2 separate regions of the Homo sapiens genome follow, and region 1 is linked to region 2. Evidence: fine-mapped expression QTL. Tissue or cell type: whole blood. Region 2 holds a variant in brackets; the other region holds the start of a gene. All regions are shown on one strand. Distances are from middle to middle.

Region 1 (4,166 bases), 42 kb after region 2:
GACAATAAGGGAATAAAAGCTGGCCACCCCAGCCAGCAGCAGCAACCCGCTCCAGTCCCCTTTCATGCTGTGGAAGCTTTGTCCTTTCACTCTTCACAATAAACCTTGCTATCGCTCACTCTGGGTCTGTGCCATCTTTAAGAGCTGTAACACTTACCACCAAGGTCTGCCGCTTCATTCTTGAAGTCACTGAGACCACTAATCTACCGGCAGGAACCAATTCCAGACACATTATTAAGGTAGGTAGATCTTCAATAGATCTACTCTTTTTTATTTTTATTTTTTTGGCAGTTTATAACCATGTACCAAGGATGCACAATTAAAAAAATAAAGCCAACTTTTACATTAAGATTTAACCAAAAATCATCAATAATACATCGTTTTAATGCTAGTAGAATCTTCTTCTGACATCAGTTCTATTAGCATAATTATAATGCCAATTAAAAAAATCTAGTGGGTCTCTTCATTTTAGTTTAGAGCTTGATTGGAAACATTCAGGAAAACATCCATGGCTTGCTTGCTACTTTCTCTTTACCTCTAGCACTATGCTTCTCCCCACCAGCCCTCCCTCCACATCCTCTGACTCAGAGACTATTTGAAGAGGACACCTGTTTTAAATGGATCCACAGGAAATACCTATGTTGCCTTTTCATAATCCGAACCTGCAACTGGTTGGCTGAAATGAAAATGTTGCCCACAGACTGATGCAACTTCAGTGTGACAACATTTACTGGAAGGCAGGAGGGACTCCAGTTTATATTTATTTTCCTTCCATTAAGCCCTGGTAGTGTAGTGTAAGAAAAAAGTAAGGGCAAAACCAGTTTAACAACCAGATGATTAGTATTAAATTACACGCAGGGGTTTTACATCCAAAATTGGAATTTTTTAAAGCTGAATGCAATCTTGTGGCAGAAAGTTATTTGAAAATCCTTTCTTTATAGCTTTTTATCTATAAACCTCTTGTCCAAAGTTCATATTCTAGCTGATGTTATATACTGATATGACATTATTCAATCTGTCATGGAAAAGTGCTGCGTAGCCTACCCATTGAAAGCAGAATTGAGAGAGTTTCCTAGTGATTGACAGTCGTTTGTCAACACTGAAAACCTTATTGCCCCAAAATACTGAAAGTCACTCGCGGCTGCCTGTGCTCGGGTTTACACCCCACGTTCACACCCCCACCGGATCCCTCCGCACGGGGCACCAGCTCTCGGCCAACTGCAACTACCCCAGGAAGCGTCACCGCGATTCCGGGGCGGGAACATTTGTGGACACTGGGGTCCACTCCTTCAGTCTAGGTTCCCCGCCCCCTCGCCCGGCCCGGCGCCCACTAGCCACAGGGCCCGCTTCCCCCTGGAGATCAGCGCGCACTTCCCGAGCCCTCGTAGCACTCAGAGGTCGCATCCACACCTGGGATGCCTAGGGGGCGCCTCCTGGCCGGGTGTCCCGGGACCCTGCGAACGCAGGAGCAGAATGACGAAGGTGACGAAAGAGATGACGACACGCCGCCTGCCAGGCCGCGGCCGGCAGTGGAGAGCGTCCGCAAACCGCGCCCGGCCAGTACAGGTCACCCGGGCGCTCGCGGCCGCGCCAGTCCCCGGGGGCGCGCGCCCCGCCCCCGCCCCCGCCCCCGCCCCGCCCCGCCCCGCGCCCGCGCCCGCGCCCGGGTTCCCACGGCGCCCGCCCCCGCGCGCCCGGCGCCTCCCTCACGCCCGCCCTCCTTGCCGCCCAGCCGGTCCAGGCCTCTGGCGAACATGGCGCTTGTCCCCTGCCAGGTGCTGCGGATGGCAATCCTGCTGTCTTACTGCTCTATCCTGTGTAACTACAAGGCCATCGAAATGCCCTCACACCAGACCTACGGAGGGAGCTGGAAATTCCTGACGTTCATTGATCTGGTAAGGCCGTCCCCTCCCCCTGCTCGCCCCGCACCCCGTGCCTGTGTGTGCGTGTGTGTGTGTGTGTGTGTGTGTGTGTGTGGATGCGCGAGCACCTGCGCACGTGCGCGCCTCCAGCATCCACCCGTGTCCTCGCCTCTTCCCCAGTGATTGCGTGTGAAGGCCTGGCTGCCCCCGCAGCGGCACCTTCTGAACCACTCACCGTTACCTGGTAGCTGGGTACCCTTACCTGGCAACTGGGGGACAAATGGAGGTGGGGCGCAGCCAGGTGGTGGGCTCTTTGGAGGGGGACACCGAACTGCTTCTAAGAGGTGACACGGGAAGAATCTTCAACAAAAGCATCGGACCTGATCCTGAATGGCCTGAGACCCATTCGCCCTCAAGGTGCTTTTCAGAGCACCCACCGTGGGATGAACTTGTTGCAACTGAAGGAAACTGGGTATTGTCTAGTGATTTGGAACTTCACCTGAAAGAACCAAATCCTTCTCATAAGGGAGAGAAAGCACCTAATAAAGTTGTCTTCTTTGCATCTGTTTTTTTCCCCCATTGTCAATAATTTACTTTCAACCTTTACCCCGTACATATTAGGAGACAGAGATGTTCAAAGTGCATTTCCAAGGTGACTGTACACACTTCTCTGTCTTCCCATGTACAAATTTACAGTAGTTTGCATAAGCAGCTCCTCTGTTGGCACAATATGATAATCTTGACAGGTGCAGGTTATTATTAGTATATCATTTTGAAAGTTTTTCTATTTCTGGCACTAAAAGGCCCTCTTCAACCTCCCTGGAGAACAGAACATGGGCATAAGGCCCAATAATGAACTCATGGATGGACCTAGGAATTTCAGGGTAAAGGTGACTAAGACACACGCTAAAAGATTATTAGGAAGAGGCTTAAAACAAAAGCAATGAAGTTCTAAAGCACTCAGAGAAATTGTAGAACCAATTCCTGGGACTCCCTGAACTGTTTATCCAAGACTATACAGTTGGTTGGCTACACCAGCAAGATTATAATCTCTTGTTGACCCTCCATTCTGATGAAGAGAACATGATACCTGTTTTAAAAATTTCCAAAGGCTTAGGATGCCTCAAAGAAATGCAGAGAGGCTTTTGGTTTAAAAATAACACCTTATATTTGCATTATATTAGATACTTTCAGAGTGGAATTTCAATTCTGTTGCCCAGCAGTCTCCAAACTGTGCACATACCCTTAGGCCCACAAGACTTCACAGGGTATAGAATGTTGCAAGGGTTTTAATTTTCAGATCCTCATCTTCCAACTCTGCTTGAAACTAATTTCCCTCTGAACATGCGTGATGCCTGCCAGTTCTCCTTTCATTCTCCCCATTCATCCAAGTGAGGAGCCCGTGACAAGACTCTGAGGTGTGCTTTTCTGTCTGTTCCTTTTAGCTTCCAGAAGATAGATGGTTGTCACCAGGGCTATCTTTATATTTGATTGAACAACAATGTCGGAGTTGCCTTGACAGAAAGTCTTATTGGGTTGATTGGCTTGTCAATGAGGATTGGCTTTGCCAATTATGTTGTGTAGCAGACATTTTCTGTATACTGAATGAGCTAAATCTGCAACCCTGAGGTTCTGATGCATATGTATATGAAGCAAGCATACCACCCATAGAGCGCCAGAAAGATGTCCCTTTTTCAAGTGTTTACACTTAACTATGTTAAGGATGTTGAGATGTTATTTAAAAATATGTGCATAGATTTTCAGAATTCTTTGAGGGGCTATGTGAGCAAAACTCCTTTTGGGACACTGCCTTATCCCATTCCTAAGTCAGATCTTACTTAGAGCTGGCCTATTTGAATGTTGCTAAAGAGCAGTGCTGGGCAAGAATACAGAGATGCTGTGGGAGCCATAGGTTCTAGAAACAGCCCTCAGCATCACTCTTGCAGTAGATGCTGTGTTGTGGGAGCAAGGCAGGGGTCAGCAGGTGAACAGAGGTAGAAATTGAGGGTGTTGGTTAACCCAAGAGATGCCTGCTTTTCATAATTAGCATTGCTTACTGTGCATTGAAAAACAAGGCTCAGAAGAAATGATATACCTCTCATAACCTTTGTGTGACATGAAACCATAGTAGAGTCAGCTTGATATGCTGTCATATAATTTATCTTTTAGCATTCAATGATTGGACTTGCCTGTTTTAAATACTAATCACCATACAGGACTTTTTCTATCCCAGAAGTCAGACAGTAGATTCAAATGTGAAACATTTACTTTGCTTCATATTTAGCTTCAGATTGTATAGGACCT
Region 2 (4,166 bases):
TCAAAATGTTTTGAATTTTGGAGCATTTCAAATTTCAGACAGAAAAGATGAAAAAGATGTATCCTGTTGTACAGTTCTTACTTTTCATAGGAAGAGGCATAATATTAATTGAAGGTAGACTGTGAAAAGTTAATGATGCATATTGTAAATCTTAAAGCAAACATTTTTAAAAATGGAGAGAGTAAGTCATAGTGCCAATGAAACAGACTAATATAAAATACTTGATTTATATAATAGAAGGCAGGAAAAGAGAAAAAAGAACTCAGAACAAGTGGGTCAAAGAGAACACAAATAGTAAGACGATGAATTTCAACATAACTGTATTGATAATTACATTAAACCCAAACGGTATAAACAGTCTAATTAAAAGGCAGAGATTGTAAGACCGAATAAAAAAATATGACCTGCTACTTACATACTGTCTACAAGAAATTCACTTTAAATATCAAAAAAGGATAAAAGTAAAAGGATGATAAAAGATGTAACATGCAAACACTGATCATAATAAAGCTGAACTGTGTCTTTTAAGATTACATGGGAATTCAAAACAAGAAATATCACCAGGGATAAAGAGGGCATTTCATGAGACTAAAGTGTTCAATTTATCAAAATATCGTATCTGTTATCAGCCATAACAGACCTGAAGTCAACATTCACTAATTCTGTGATCTTAAAGCATGTGACTTCAGCTTTCTTAGTCTAAGTTCCTTAATTTTATAAAATGGGGTTACTGCTTGACAGGACCGTTGCTACTAAAAGTACTCTGAGTTCTATGTGAAATATGAAATTATTTCTCTGCCCATTTTCATATGTTTATTTTTAATTTTTTAACTCTTCATTTTTAAATCATTTCAGGTTTATAAAGCAGCTACAAAAAATCTTTGTACATTTTCACCAAAATTTCCCAGAAGTTAACATCTTATGTAACTAAATTATCAAAATCAGGAGATTAAACATTGATTCAGTACAATTATTAAACCTTCTTTAAAGTTTTACCAATTGTCTCTGTAATGTCATTTTTATTGTCCAGGATCCAATCCATGATCACATGCTGGTTTTGGCTGCCATGTATATCTACTCTCCTTTATTCTAGAACTGATTCTCAGTGCTTCTTCGTCTTTCATGTTCTTGTCACTTTTGAAGGGCACTGGTCAGTTATGTTTAGAAATATTTCTAAATTTAGGGTTATTATGTTTTTTTATTTGAGACAGTCTCACTCTGTCACCCAGGCTGGAGTGCAGTGGCACAATCTCGACTCACTGAAACCTCCTCCTCCCAGGTTCAAAAGATTTCCCTGCCTCAGCCTCCTGAGTAGCTGGGATTAGAGGCTTGTGCCACCTTGTCAGACTAAGTTTTGTATTTTTAGTGGAGAGGGTGTTTCACCACGTTGACCAGGCTGGTCTCGAACTCCTGACCTCAAGTGATACCCCCACCTTGGCCTCCCAAAGTGCTGGGATTACAGGCGTGAGCCATTGTGCCTGGCCAAATTTAGGGCTATCTGATAGATTCCACAATTAAATATACATTAATTATTTTGAGTAAAAAAATCACAGGAATTATGCCATGTCCTTTTGAGTGCAGCATATCGGGAGACATAGGCCGTTGATTTGTCTCTTACTGATGATGTTAACTTTGATTAGTAGGTTAAGGTGGTGTCTTCCAGGCTTCTTTACCTTAAAGTTACTATTTTTCTTTTTGAAACCCTCAGAAAGTGTACCCTGTCACGTTTTCCCATTCAGCTTGGCATAAACAGAGAGAGGGAGGGAGGAAGG[G/C]GGGTGGAGAGAGAGAGAGAGAGAGAAAGAGAGGGGAGAGAGAGAACGTGAGAGGGAGTGTATTCCTGACATCTTTTTAGAGTACATTGTATCCATTTCTGCATTTCCATATCTTTTCTTAAACTACTTTAATTTAAAAAAAGAGATAGAAGGAATCTACTCTATCCTCATCCCAATCAAGTTGGAGCTAACTTAAGACTTGCCAAAGATAAAGAACCCCGCAGGAGCTGGGTGTGGTGGGTTATGCCTATAATTCCAGAGTTTTGGGGAGCCAAGGCAAGAGAATCCCTTGAGACCAGGAGTTCGAGGCTCCTGTGAGCTATGATTGCTCCATGGCACTCCACCCTGGGCAACAGACAGAGAGAGAGAGAGAGACCCTGCCTCTGAAAAAAAAGGAACTCCTCGGGCACCTGAATTGTGCTGATGTTAACTCCTGTTTCAGTGGGAAAGTGTAAGACCTGTAAGGGGAACAAGAGGAATATTGGTCTCTCCTTGGGTTTTTCTCCAGGTGGCATGTCATTTTCCCCTCCATCAGCTGAAGTCTCTCATTCCACCCTAGGAAGTTGTTCTTGAACTCGGGCACAGGAGGAGTTTCCTTTCTGGGATGTTGAGCAAGTCCATTTTTACCTAATAACTTCATCCAATATTCATTCTTGGCTCTGAAAGCTGGTCCTCCCACGTGGTCTGCAAAACAACACACCCTCATCCTACTCTGCCTGTTTATGTCACTGCTTCATCTGACGAGTGTTTGTAATGGTCACATCTGTTGCTTATCTGCCTTGTAGGAGGCAGTGGAGATGACCAAGGTAATATGCATTCAAAGGAAAGGAAAACATGTCCCGCTCTGAGCCACACTCTTTTTCGGGGGCACAACATCACTGAAGTCATCATCTGCCCAGGATACCTCATGATTTAATCATAAGAGATATCTTTTTACATGTAGGAAACTATAATTCCCGAAGAGTGAAGGGACTTAGTGAAAACACAATTGAAGATGTAAATAATCCAAACTTAGAACTCAAATTTCCAGATTGTAAGGACTCTGTTTAAAACACTACTGGCTCTCTGATGCCATGAGCACCTAAGAAAGTTGTATGAAGATGAGCAAGACCCAATTTCATATTTACACAAAATTGCAGTATTCTAGACACTAAAGTAAAGACAGAAATAATTCTTCTCATGGGGAAATGCATTTACTTAGGAGTAAGTCCATGTGTAACAATTTAAAAAATAATTTTATAGCCATTGACTTTACATTCATATCAGCTGAGTTCTAACCATGGTTTTAATTAAAAAAATAATATTTATTCTTTTTTGGTTGAAAAAGCAATACAAGAACAATGTAAAATTTGAAATTGTAGAAAAAATGTATTATACAAAATGTAAGATGTAATGTAAAAAAATAAAAAGCACTGTTAAAGATAATCACTACTATAGTTTTGGTTAGTAAAATCCTCCAACTTTTCTGCCTATGTAATATAAAAATATTTATATGTTTTATATTATTTTCTATATTTAATTATATAAGTATATTGATAATTTATAATCATATATTATATAATTATATGTAAGTAATCATTATAAATATGTAATTATCATTATATTAAAATGAGATTATTCCTACTTCTTTGAGAAAGCTCCTTTTTACACTTATTATGAAGCTTTTCCTGTGAAGTTATACAACCTGAGTTTTAATGAGTGTAAAGTATTCTATTGGATGGTTGAACCATAATTTATGTAAATATTATATAATATTTATGTAAATAATATATTGTTGGGATATAAAGTAGTTTTTTTTAATGCTACTAACAATGACCATGACCAGCTTGGGCAACATGGCAAAACCCCATCTCCACAAAAACATTTTAAAAAATTAGCCAGGCATGGTAGCATGTACCTACAGTCCCAGCTACCCACTAGGCTGAGGTGGAAGGATCAGTTGAGCCTGGGAGATGAAGGCTACAGTGAGCCGTGATCATATCACTGCACTCCAGCCTGAATGACAGAGTGAGACTCAAATAAAACCCCAAACCCAAAATGATTAAATTAATATTCAAATATTTGAATCTTTATGTACATTCACAATAGGTAAAATATGTACAAATTAAAGTTTAAACTTATTTACTAATAAGTTACCAAAATCAGGAGATTTTTGTTACATATTTCTGTATTTCCTCTAGAAAGATTTACCCCAATTTACAATCTTCAAGCACTGTCTGTTTACTTCTTTGTTGTGACTATGAGGAGTGCATTGGCCACAGACAACAGAAAACCTGACCACAGCAGTAAAAGTAAGAAGTCTGTTTTTCTCAGACCACAAGAAGGCCAGAGGTTATCAATCTTTTCATATTTTTCATTCAGTAGTGCTTCACATGCATTTGCCTATATACCACC

Evidence for each region. PIP is the estimated chance that this variant, and not a neighbour inherited with it, causes the effect.
Region 1: AIG1 starts here. The variant in region 2 is fine-mapped to the expression of AIG1 in whole blood (TOPMed, PIP 0.96).

Annotation. Positions count from the first base shown.
Region 1 is chr6:143,059,172-143,063,337 of GRCh38, forward strand. AIG1 (androgen induced 1) reads left to right here and starts at 1,718. Exons shown (of 6, transcript NM_016108.4): 1 at 1,718-1,895. The coding sequence starts at 1,755. RefSeq lists enhancers at 714-1,652, 1,478-1,607, 2,208-2,257 and silencers at 1,608-1,697, 1,948-2,017.
Region 2 is chr6:143,016,693-143,020,858 of GRCh38, forward strand. All of the region lies in intron 2 of LINC01277 (long intergenic non-protein coding RNA 1277), which reads right to left. Among named protein-coding and RNA genes, the nearest start is that of LINC01277, 19 kb to the right of the region's middle. The variant G/C (reference allele first, on the strand shown) is at 1,773.